Regions from separate parts of the Homo sapiens genome. Here regions 2, 3 and 4 are each reported to be linked to region 1. Evidence: microRNA targets listed by miRTarBase, many of them from high-throughput screens and not tested one by one. Region 1 holds a microRNA gene; each other region holds the end of a gene's coding sequence.

Region 1 (3,111 bases):
CCAAAGACACCCCATACAGTTTATGTAGCTTACTTCCCCAAAGCAATACACTGAAAATGTTTCGACGGGCTCATATCACCCCATAAACAAATAGGTTTGGTCCTAGCCTTTCTATTAGCTCTTAGTAGGATTACACATGCAAGCATCCCCGCCCCAGTGAGTCACCCTCTAAATCACCACGATCAAAAGGAACAGGTATCAAGCACGCAGCAACGCAGCTCAAAACGCTTAGCCTAGCCACACCTCCACGGGAGACAGCAGTGATAAACCTTTAGCAATAAACCAAAGTTTAACTAAGCCATACTAACCCCAGGGTTGGTCAATTTCGTGCCAGCCACCGCGGTCACACGATTAACCCAAGTCAATAGAAACCGGCATAAAGAGTGTTTTAGATCAATTCCCCTCAATAAAGCTAAAATTCATGTGAGTTGTAAAAAACTCCAGTTGATACAAAATAAACTACGAAAGTGGCTTTAATGCATCTGAACACAGAATAACTAAGACCCAAACTGGGATTAGATACCCCACTATGCTTAGCCCTAAACTTCAACAGTTAAATTAACAAAACTGCTCGCCAGAACACTACGAGCCACAGCTTAAAACTCAAAGGACCTGGCGGTGCTTCATATCCCTCTAGAGGAGCCTGTTCTGTAATCGATAAACCCCGATCAACCTCACCACCTCTTGCTCAGCCTATATACCGCCACCTTCAGCAAACCCTGACGAAGGCCGCAAAGTAAGCGCAAGTACCCACGTAAAGACGTTAGGTCAAGGTGTAGCCCATGAGGTGGCAAGAAATGGGCTACATTTTCTACTTCAGAAAACTACGATAACCCTGATGAAATTTAAGGGTCGAAGGTGGATTTAGCAGTAAACTAAGAGTAGAGTGCTTAGTTGAACAGGGCCCTGAAGCGCGTACACACCGCCCGTCACCCTCCTCAAGTATACTTCAAAGGACACTTAACTAAAACCCCTACGCATTTATATAGAGGAGATAAGTCGTAACATGGTAAGTGTACTGGAAAGTGCACTTGGACGAACCAGAGTGTAGCTTAACACAAAGCACCCAACTTACACTTAGGAGATTTCAACTCAACTTGACCGCTCTGAGCCAAACCTAGCCCCAAACCCATTCCACCTTACTACCGAACAGCTTTAACCAAATCATTTACCCAAATAAAGTATAGGCGATAGAAATTGTAAATCGGCGCAATAGATATAGTACCGCAAGGGAAAGATGAAAAATTGCAACCAAGCATAATACAGCAAGGACTAATCCCTGTACCTTCTGCATAATGAATTAACTAGAAATAACTTTGCAAAGAGAACCAAAGCTAAGACCCCCGAAACCAGACGAGCTACCTAAGAACAGCTAAAAGAGCACACCCGTCTATGTAGCAAAATAGTGGGAAGATTCGTAGGTAGAGGCGACAAACCTACCGAGTCTGGTGATAGCTGGTTGTCCAAGACAGAATCTTAGTTCAACTTTAAATTTACCCACAGAACCCTCCAAATCCCCCTGTAAATTTAACTGTTAGTCCAAAGAGGAACAGCTCTTTGGACACTAGGAAAAAACCTTGTAAAGAGAGTAAAAAATTTAATACCCACAGTAGGCCTAAAAGCAGCCACCAATTAAGAAAGCGTTCAAGCTCGACACCTGTCATCTAAAAAATCCCAAACACATAACTGAACTCCTTGCACCCAATTGGACCAATCTATTACCCTATAGAAGAGCTAATGTTAGTATAAGTAACATGAAAACATTCTCCTCCGCATAAGCCTACATCAGACCAAAATATTAAACTGACAATTAACAGCCCAATATCTATAACCAACCAACAAGCCATTATTACCCCCACTGTTAACCCAACACAGGCATGCCCACAAGGAAAGGTTAAAAAAAGTAAAAGGAACTCGGCAAATCTTACCCCGCCTGTTTACCAAAAACATCACCTCTAGCATTCTCAGTATTAGAGGCACCGCCTGCCCAGTGACATGCGTTTAACGGCCGCGGTACCCTAACTGTGCAAAGGTAGCATAATCACTTGTTCCTTAAATAGGGACTTGTATGAATGGCTCCACGAGGGTTCAGCTGTCTCTTACTTTCAACCAGTGAAATTGACCTGCCCGTGAAGAGGCGGGCATAGTATAACAAGACGAGAAGACCCTATGGAGCTTTAATTCATTAACGCAAACAACACTTAACAAGTCCACAGGCCCTAAACTATCAAACCTGCGTGAAAAATTTCGGTTGGGGCGACCTCGGAGCACAATCCGACCTCCGAGCAACACATGCCGAGACTTCACCAGTCAAAGCGAATTACCACGTTTAATTGATCCAATAACTTGACCAACGGAACAAGTTACCCTAGGGATAACAGCGCAATCCTATTCTAGAGTCCATATCAACAAGGTGTTAGCTGGACAGACTAAAATAATACCCCGGGAAAAGGAAAGGAACATGTATAGCTTTGCTCATGAACTATAACAGGGTAGAAGTTAGAGAAAATAACAAAGGAAGATTTATCTTCTGGGTCTGGTGAGCTTCAGTTTGAAAATTTTGAGTTTTCCTAGTGAATGTCATTCATGTCGGAGTCTTAGTAAAAGATAAATTAGCTATTATTATTGATAGCTTTTCATGGTGCCCAATCTTAAGAGTAAAAATCTTTAACATTTGCTTTAAATATGATTATCTTTAAATAGTTTTAAACTATTGAGCCACAGTCCTAGCTGACTTTATTTAACAATTTAAAAAAAGATACTTGATACAGATAAAATGACAATGAGAAACTACACAATACTTCCTATGTTAGGGCAAATGTATATAAACGGGGGCTTTTCAAAACTAATCCCTAAGATAACAATGGATTTTCATTCAATTTCATAATTAGCTGTAAGATAGCATATATATCTGCCTAGTAAAAAGACTGCATTTATACTTCCATATGCTGAATTGACCAGTGGAGGGGACAGGCATTATAAAGTCACAAGATGAGACAATCTAAAGTCAAATAAGTTCACAGGCAGAAACTGGATTCTTCTTCTAACTATAATGATTCAAAAAGACCTCCTGTAGTCTGAATTTGACCACAGAAATAGATAGGAAGGTCC
Region 2 (3,111 bases), not on the chromosome of region 1:
ATCCATACAGGTGAGAAACCTTACGAATGTAAGGAATGTGAAAAGGCTTTTCGTTCTGGCTCAGACCTTACTAGACATCAGAGAATTCATACTGGGGAGAAACCCTATGAATGTAAGATATGTGGGAAGGCTTATTCTCAGAGTTCACAGCTTATTAGTCATCATAGAATTCATACTAGTGAGAAACCCTATGAATATAGGGAATGTGGAAAGAACTTTAATTATGACCCACAACTTATTCAGCATCAAAATTTGTACTGGTGATGAAACAGAATATATGAAATGTGTAGGGAGGCTTTTAATTATGGCTCAAAACAGAATTTATCTTGTTAATAATTCCTCTAGATAGAATAATGTAGAAACATTTTATTTGTGGACTACAGCTTATTCAGCCTGGGAAAAATAATGTTGGAGAAATACTCTATGAATAGAATATACTTTGGAAGCCCTTAACTAAACGCTTACTTCTCTTGACATCAGATAATTCAGTCTAGCAATATGATAGATAATTCAGTCTGTCATACTGAAAATGACAGCACTTTTAACACCTTTCTAACCTTCTTAACGTCAGAGAATTTTTGTAGAAATGTAGTCCTGTGATTGTCATTTTTTCCCCTAATTTCTCTAATTGTTACATTCTTAGTATTTTAATCCATATTAAATTTATATGGCTATAAATTTCATCTGTTTACATCCTGATTTGTATACTATTTTAAAAATACCTTTAGTACCTGGGAGAAGTGACCTCTTTATTTTTGAAGATGGCTTATTCTTTTTGTTCTTTATAACATTAAGGCTTTCTTATTGTAAAAATGTTCATGAACGACATTTTACTCAATAGAGATTCTTCATTATCTTCATGGTGTTTTGTTGTGTTACTGTAATATCACTTATGAAATCCTATTGGTGGATATCGTAGTCTCCTCTAGATATTTTGCCATAATACATGCCAAAATACAAGTCCCTGCTGGACATTCTCCCTAAGCACATCTTTGTATCATATCTTTTAATTGCAGAAGTAATGTGTGAATATATTTTCCTTATAAAAGATGCAAACATTACAAAAAGGCAAATGTACCCTTTGACCATATCCCAAAGGATAGTCTTTATCAGTTCATTATTTATTGCTGATCATTTTTCTGTTCATATATACATGCGTGTCTCAGTAAAAATTATAAAATGGGGGATAATTATAATACCTACCTCATAATGCTTTGTGAGGATTAAATGAATTAAGATCGATAAAGTGCTTAGAATTGTGCCTGACATGATAAATACATACTCACTGAATGTTAGTCATCGTTATTATATTCATCATCATCAGTATTATTATTTGTAGAAAGGCTTTTTAACTTCTGCAGAACTTAGTCACCATTAGGCAGGGTGTTTGACTGAAGAAAGACCCTTTGAAGGTAACAAGTTAAGAAAATTTCCCATCATCATGTACTTACTATTGAACATGAAATAATCCTAGGTGTTGGGGGGGAAAGTACTGTGAATAATGTGTGTGAAGGACTTTATTCCGACTAATACTCTTTTTGTCGCATTATATACCCAGTAAAAAAGAAAAGAGAACATAAGCAAAATATTGGTGCACTAATGAGGAAAAAAAGTATGAAAAGAGAAACAGCATCATATTTAAAAAATGGACAGAGATAGAAACATAGTTACAGATTTAAAAGGTTCTGTTGAATATTATGCTTTTTTCTAATATGTTTGAAAATTTAAACAAAATGGTTTTTAAGGAAAATATACATCAATATTGACTCCAAGAAAATTAGGACTCTTCAAAGACTCTCATAAACACAGAGAACAGGGAAAAATTAGCATGTGATCAGTTAACTATTACTAATGAAGCACCAAATCCAGTTTCTTTCTAAGGAAAACTTTATCAAATGTTCAAGGAACTATTTCAGTTATATAGAAGTACACATCTTGGCTCACGCCTGTAATCCCAGCACTTTGGGAGGCTGAGATGGAAGGATCATTTGAGGCCAGGAGCTTGAGACCAGCCTGGCCAACATGTTGAAACCCCATTTTTACTCAAAAATACAAAACTTAGCCAGGCATGGTGGCACATGCCTGTAATCCCAGCTACTGGGGAGGCTGAGGCAGGAGAATCACTTGAATGCAGGAGGTGGAGGTTGCAGTGAGCCAAGATCACGCCATGGCACTTCAGCCTGAGCGACAGAATGAGACTATTAAAAAAAAAAAAAAAAAGTCCACAGTGTAGCTTTGTTTGGGGTTAAGTTAGTGTTTTGAAATGGGCCTTCCCTGTGCTCAAAACATGCTCAGCAAGCAGCTCCCCACGCTGGACAGATCGCATATGTGGAAGGATGAAGTTTATGTCTGTAGAACTGTTATTTTATGCCCCACTTCCTTTTTTCTTAGATCCTGTGTAGACGGGTCTCTCTGAACATTGTGTTACTTTACTTTACTGGCATAAGGAAGTAAAATATTTCATAATAAATTTGAGAAAAGTAGAGTGAGCAAAAATACCTGCAAATGAGAGAATTACTAAAAATGGACTGTTGTAATGTTTTGCGTTATCAAAATGAAAACTGCCAAATGAGATTTTGTTTACTTTCTTTTCTTGTGTGCTTATGTCTTTTATAAAGTTCTTCATCTAAAATTATAGAGATAGTGCATTTGCACCCAAATTAATGAAACAATACCATTAAAGAGAAAGAAAAGGGGCTGGGCACAGTGGCTTACGCCTGTAATCCCAGTGCTTTGGGAGGCCAAGGCAGGGGGCAGCCTGGCCAATATAGTGAAACCCCATCTCTACTAAAAATACAAAAATTAGCTGGGCGTGGTGGCATGTGCCTGTAGTCCCAGCTGCTCGGAAGGCTGAGGCAGGAGAATCGCTTGAACCCGGGAGGCGGAGGTTGCAGTGAGCTGAGATCCTGACTGCACTCCAGCCTGCATGACAGAGTCTCAAAAAATCTGTCTCAAAAAAAAAAAAAAAAAAGAAAGAAAAAATGATTATCTTTGCCCTTCTCCGTTCCTCATTCCCTCCCCTCTGTCAATTTTCTTCTGAATAATATTTAAAGGTTGTGTATATTACCCATATATTTCTTCATGCTAAAACATTAACACACAATTATTTTA
Region 3 (3,000 bases), not on the chromosome of region 1:
TAAAAATACTGACATTACTTGGAGTGAGCTTACATCCACTGCTAAGAAAGAAGCCGTCTCTCTGAATGTCAATGAAAACAATTATGTTTTACTAGAGAACTTGGAGTGTTCAGCCCCAGGATACAATGATGACGTTACCTTGTTTAGTAGAACTGATGACTGAAGTCTCTAGAAACACTGAGTTTTAACCAATATGAGACACACGAAGAGGAAAATGAATGCTTGCTTCTTGGAAGAACTGCTAGGAAAGTTAGCATTTTTGCAGTTCTAACTAATTTAGATGTGAGGCCAAGTAAAAATGCCATTTTTTTGGCCATTGAATTTGAAAATCAAATTGATTATCCTCCAGAATCTCTACAAACTTTGAAATACTCTCTAAGGATCAAAGAAGTCAAAGAGCTATGTGTGTCTCAGAATAATCTCCTTCTTCTGGTCACAGTATCTTTGTCTCTGCCAGGTGGCTCTTCATTTCTTTGGTAGCTATTTTTAGACTTACAGTCATTCACCAATATACAGTTAGCAGTGTTCTGATAGACACAGTATCAGTCATATTCTCCGTTGAGTCATAATTTCAAACTCAACAAGATTTCAGAAAGGTATAATCATGTAATTTCTCATATTAAAACTGAGAAGAGAGGCCAGGCATGGTGGTTCACACCTGTAATCCTAGCAGTTTGGGAGGCCAAGGCGGACAGATCACTTGAGCTCAGGAGTTCGAGACCACCTTGGGCCACAAGGCGAGACCCTGTCTCTACAAAAAATACAAAAATTAGCCAGGCGTGGTGGCACATGCCTGTAGTTCCAGCCACCCGGGAGCCTGAGGTGGGAGGATTGCTTGAGTCTGCGAGGTTGGGGCTGCCGTGAGCCCAGATTGCGCCATTGTGCTCCAGCCTGGGTGACAAAGCAAGGCCCTGTCTCAAAAAAGAAGAAGAGAAAGGGCCAGGGGCTTTTGCTTTAAAAAACTTTTTTTAAAACAGAAGTGAAACCACGGGTGCTTTGTTCTTCCTTCTGCACCTCCTTCTTAAACTAGATAGCTAATTAGTTATTTTAAGAAAAAAGAAATTTAAAAAAAAGCCTGCTTTATTTGTTAGTGGGCTAGAATACACAAGACATACCCACCCATGAAGAGTTTATGAATTGTAACTTATTGACATTATCATAGGAATTTACTACCAGTTAAAGAGGGAGAACGGAGGAAGAGAAAAATACTTCAGATAAAGGAAAAAGTTTTCTTCTCACAAAAACACAGACACGTGATTGTTTTCACAGGTTCCATTAATTAACTCAGGTCTGGAAGACATAGGACAAAATGGAGTTTCTGAAGAAGTCCAGGTGAATTCAGCTTTGGAGTCACTTATGTTCATTTTTTTTCCTTTTCTTTTACTATTATCCTAAAGGTTATTTTTCTTGTTGATATAGAGATTTTTGTAAAAGATTGCTACATTATTTCAGGATTATATCCTACATTTCGATTGCTCTCAAATGTTTTATCCCTAAAGAGTGAGTTTTCCACAGACTGTTTGGAAGCAACTAGAAAAATCTTTGTGAAAAATCTGAACAAATTATCATAATGGCTCTCTTGAAATTTTGCACTTTCACCCTTATTAAGGAAATTATAATTAGTTACTAACCTTTAAAAATAGATATATTCTAATAGGATAGAAAGTTAACTTCCTGGCAAACAAAATACTAAGATCTCAGGGGCTACTGCAGGAAAATACCTTTTTCGCACATTAAAATGTTTATAAAATTTTCCCCTCTCATTTCAAATGCATGGCAGGAATAACATTTTTGGTGGTCTTTAATGTGATGGACAGATTTACTGTCACTTATTGATTTTATGGAAAATAAATTGGCTATCTTATTTTTATAACAATCTTATTTTTCTCAAAACAAAAATCCTAACCAAAAAGTTGTCATTAAAAAAAAAAAAATTCAGGTAGACTGAATGTTTTTCTGCTCTAACCTTAAATGTTATTAGGTTTGGTTTTTGTTTCTAAGCTACTTCAAGACTACCTGAGGTAATAATGGTAAACTTTATTATTCAGAATTCGATTAAACTAACTTCAGCATTTCCACAGTTCTATTAAACAATGACTGATGTTCACAATGACAACCTACCTGAGATGGCTGCAAGGCCCTAATGTTCCATTATACATTATAGTCTTTTCAGCATAGTTTAGTGTTGAGTGCAATTCTAATGCATTCTACGTTTTTGAAAATCGATAATCCATGGAAGGTCCATGGGTTGATACCTCAGGTCAAAAATGTGTTTACTCTGTTGATTGCTGTTTCACTTTACTTGTATATCAGATATATAAGCTATGAACACAAGTTTGTAGTAAAAGTATCTTCTGTCTGGGCAATGGCTCACACCTGTAATTCCAACACTTTGGGGGGCTCAGGTGGGAGGATTTCTAGTCCCCAGGAGTTTGAGACCAGCCTGGGCAATAAACTAGACCCCATGTCTCTAAAAAATGTAAAAAACATCAAGAGGCTGAGTCAGGAGGATCATTTGAGCTTAGGAGTTCAAGGCTGCAGTAAGTTATGATTGTGCCACTGCATTCCAGCCTGGGTGACAAGAGTGAGACCCTGACCCAAAAAAGTATCTTCTGATAAAGTGGCATTTGAAAATTGCAGAAATTTTAATATTTTTTCTTTTAATATTAAGAACTTTATTGATCTCTCTAGGACACCTTGGTGAGGAAATTAATGGCACTTTTCTTGACATCCAACCTGGGACTCTGGTGATTCTGTGTTCTGGCGAATTTAAGTTTCAGACATTTCTTTGTGTCACCTTTTACAAGGTGTTTGCCCTTGGTACGTTATGACCAGGTCAAAGGTTCCCAAACACAAGGCTCATTGTGTACCCTGGACAGGAAATTGAACTGATGTTGACATGTATGCATGCCCAGGAGGAAGACTGGGAAAGATTTAATGAGTTGAAGTATGCTGAGAAACAATGAAATATTTGAAAACTGTCTACATAAAAGTTACTGA
Region 4 (3,111 bases), not on the chromosome of region 1:
AAGGCCATCCTTTAATCCAGGCTTCACCCTAGCCCCAGGCCCCACATCCACAATTAGGGCAAAGCAAGGGCCAGTGGGGCTTTGGTGCTTGAGGAGAGTGCCCAGAACCACGAGTGGGCTACCCAGGCCCCAGATTTACTCTTCAGAGATCCCCACCATTGGCAGAAGTCCTTGTGAAGACCCACCTCCCCACCCTCCCAGAAAAACACAAAAGTCACATAAATAAGGTGCCGCATGTTCTTTTTAGTTTCCATACATCGTCTGTCCCAGAGTGAGGAGAAGTTGATCTCCTTCCCACATCCACCACAGGCTGCGTGAGGGAAGCCTGGCTCCCCACAACTTGCTCCTTCTCCAGCCCTGCCCCTCTCAATTAAAACAATGCTTTCTTTTTTCTTTTCTTTTTTTTGAGACGGAGTCTTGCTCTGTCACCCGGGCTGGAGTGCAGTGGCGCGATCTTGGCTCACTGCAAGCTCCGCCTCCTGGGTTCACACCATTCTCCAGCCTCAGCCTCCCAAGCTGCTGGGACTACAGGCGCCCACCACCACGCCAAGCTAATTTTTTGTATTTTTTTAGTAGAGACAGGGTTTCACTGTGTTAGCCAGGATGGTCTCAATCTCCCAACCTTGTGATCCACCCACCTCGGCCTCCCAAAGTGCTGGGATTACAGGCGTGAGCCACTGTGCCTGGACTAAAACAATGCTTTCTAAAGCGCATTCTGCAGCCTGATGTGCCTGTGAGGTGAGAGGTGTGGGAGGGACAGAAGCTTTGTTCAAAGAGGTTTGGGAGAGGCTGGATACTTAGCTCCCTTCTTGTAAGTTTGCCACACACATTGGCATATTAAAGGTTCTGAGAAGTCATTCAGGTCACTGATCTGTTTAGGTGTCCCCAAATAACTTGGCCACCAATCATGTCTACTCCTGGACATTAGTTCAATAAACTAGTGTATCGCAGATGTGCTTTGCAAAAAGCTTCATGAAAAAGTACACATGTGATTCCCTCCAGGGCTTTCCTCGAGGCTCCTGGGTGACCTGTCTGACCATGGCTGGAGAATCAGCACAGCACTCCCCTAGCCTCACCTCTTCCCCCATTTGGCTGTGGAAATGGAGAAACACAGTCACCTCTGAACTTCTAAACCTAGAAACAGAAGGAGACTGTACACAGGGGAATACAGAAGGCAGTCTGGGATGATGTCACTATAGAATGACTGATGAAAAATGCAGATTGACTGTTCTGACGCTGGCTTAGGGCCTGGGGCTGAAGCTGGGGACCTTGAGCAAGGCCCTTTGACTCCTGTGATCTGTTTGCCATGTTGCCAATGAGGAATAGGAACCTGCTTCAAGGATCTTATGAGGACCAGGGGAGGGAGGGGTATGGAAAGCCTTTGATGCAAATGCTCTATGCAGAACAGGAGTTATAATTATAGTCTCCATTAGACATGAAGCTTCCTGAGAAGGATCCGAAATCCACAGACTATCAGGACTGGACGGCCTGCTGAGGTTAGTTACTCTAGCCACCCCTTTTCACTGATGGGGAAGCTGAGCACCAGGTTGTAAAAGCCTGGGCCTGGGATCAGGGGCAGTGGGAGGAGGAGTTAAGGCAGGGAGCAGGAATGAAAAAGAAACTAAGTGGGTGAGGGCCAGGGAGAGGAAGATTAAGTCACAGATCTGATTTTCCAGAGCCTGAAGAGAAAAACAGAGCAAAGGATAAGACCCGGATGACAGATGAGATCTAGATTCGACTCTGGGAACTGCTCCATGCCTTGGTTTCCTCATCTGTGCAGGGATGAGGTTCCAGCTCTGATAGATGAATGGACTCACAACCACCAAGCTTGCCCCTGTGCCCAGGTGGCACCAAGACTGAAGGGCCAGGAGGGCTGAGGGGATGCACCTTGCCTGGTAAAGGAAGAGGAGCTCTGGCTACTGTCCCTTGGTGGACACGACTCTGGCCCAGGAATGATGCCTCAGCTGGGGAGGCTGCCTGGCCCTGTCAGCCCCAAGGGCCTTCAGAGACCCCCTCTCTACCACTCACCTTCCCCACTCTGATTTGCGGGGTTTGTCCACACTCCCCCCAACCCCTACTCTGGCCTTCAGACAATCCTAGAATGGGACACTGCAGTGACATAAGAGTCCTTTGACCAGTCCCCCCACCATTTTAATGCAGGGGTAAACTGAGGCTCTGAGCAGGCCAGGGTGGAGTGGAAACACCTAGAGGAAGTTGATAAGTCAGCAAGTCGGCAGCAGAGCTGACAAGCTGGGACCAGGGGCTGTCTCCTTTATGTCAAATGGCCAGCGTGACACAGACTGCCCCTGGGAAAGCCTCGGAACTTCTCGGATTGGGACAGAGTGCTGGGGCAGGGAGGAAATGTCTCCTCTTGCTTATTCCCTTGGCCAACTCAAGGGAAGACGCTTCTCGGGGCCTCCAAAACCCTGTGGGTGATTCCATGTAACTCAAGGCCCCAGGGCTCACTGGGCACACACCCAGGATCTCCATCTCGCTCCCACCCTCGTTCCTTCCTGGAAAAGAACTGAGAGGCTCCTGCTGTCTTCTCCAGAAAAACCTTGGAAGGAGCTGTGACTTCAGGCGTCGTGGTGGGCCCAGGCCCTGCACCCTATGTGGCGAGGAAAGAGACCTCAGTGGGAGTGACAGGGGCCAGAGGGAAGGCAGGCGAGGCATTGGCCCCAAGGACCCGGTACAACAGCTCCTCCTTCTCCTGCTGGAGCTGTCGCCGCAGCTGCACCTCCTTCTCCAGGGCCTCACGCGTGAGAAGCAGGTCTTCTGACAGCTGCCTGTGGATGCACACAGAGCCCAGGGTTGCCTACTGGGAGCAGCTGCCACAGAGACCAACCCATTCCCCCAGGAAGCCTTCCTTAGATGGACCAGCAGCCTGCTGCAGGGTCCCCACTGCCCTCCTTGTTGGCCTGTATACAAGAGGCAATTCAATCTGTTGACCAAGGAGCGGGGGCCTCACAGACAGGCAGGCAGTTCTGAGCTGCTTCAAATCTCTGCTCTACCACTTAGCTATATAATCTTGAATAAGTTATTCATTCTTCTTAAATTTCAGTCTTCTCATTTGTAAAATGGGAAGAAGAAGAATAGGACCCAGCTCTTAGA

Evidence for each region. Region 1 holds the annotated microRNA hsa-miR-4485-5p (ACCGCCUGCCCAGUGA, at 1,979-1,994, shown strand). A microRNA usually pairs through its seed, bases 2 to 8, with sites in the 3' UTR of a target mRNA and lowers its output. Matches are read on the target gene's strand: a 7mer-m8 pairs with bases 2 to 8, a 7mer-A1 pairs with bases 2 to 7 and ends in A, and an 8mer does both.
Region 2: the mRNA of ZNF566 is a reported target of hsa-miR-4485-5p. Seed matches in the 3' UTR shown: 7mer-A1 at 2,880-2,886.
Region 3: the mRNA of NIPAL1 is a reported target of hsa-miR-4485-5p. Seed matches in the 3' UTR shown: 7mer-A1 at 686-692.
Region 4: miRTarBase lists CCDC69 as a target of hsa-miR-4485-5p. Seed matches in the 3' UTR shown: 7mer-A1 at 472-478.

What each region holds. Positions count from the first base shown.
Region 1 is chr11:10,507,188-10,510,298 of GRCh38, reverse strand. MIR4485 (microRNA 4485) reads left to right here and starts at 1,973; the gene lies at 1,973-2,029. AMPD3 (adenosine monophosphate deaminase 3) reads right to left here. Exons shown (of 15, transcript NM_001025389.2): 15 at 2,720-3,111. It also overlaps the pseudogene MTRNR2L8. RefSeq lists a silencer at 883-1,177.
Region 2 is chr19:36,446,130-36,449,240 of GRCh38, reverse strand. ZNF566 (zinc finger protein 566) reads left to right here. Exons shown (of 5, transcript NM_001145344.1): 5 at 1-3,111. The coding sequence ends at 264. Among named protein-coding and RNA genes, the nearest start is that of ZFP82, 29 kb to the right of the region's middle. RefSeq lists an enhancer at 1-190.
Region 3 is chr4:48,036,010-48,039,009 of GRCh38, forward strand. It overlaps NIPAL1 (NIPA like domain containing 1), which reads left to right. Exons shown (of 6, transcript NM_207330.3): 6 at 1-3,000. The coding sequence ends at 163. Among named protein-coding and RNA genes, the nearest start is that of NIPAL1, 21 kb to the left of the region's middle. RefSeq lists enhancers at 664-923, 944-1,003.
Region 4 is chr5:151,180,829-151,183,939 of GRCh38, forward strand. It overlaps CCDC69 (coiled-coil domain containing 69), which reads right to left. Exons shown (of 9, transcript NM_015621.3): 9 at 224-2,786. The coding sequence ends at 2,609. Among named protein-coding and RNA genes, the nearest start is that of ANXA6, 25 kb to the left of the region's middle.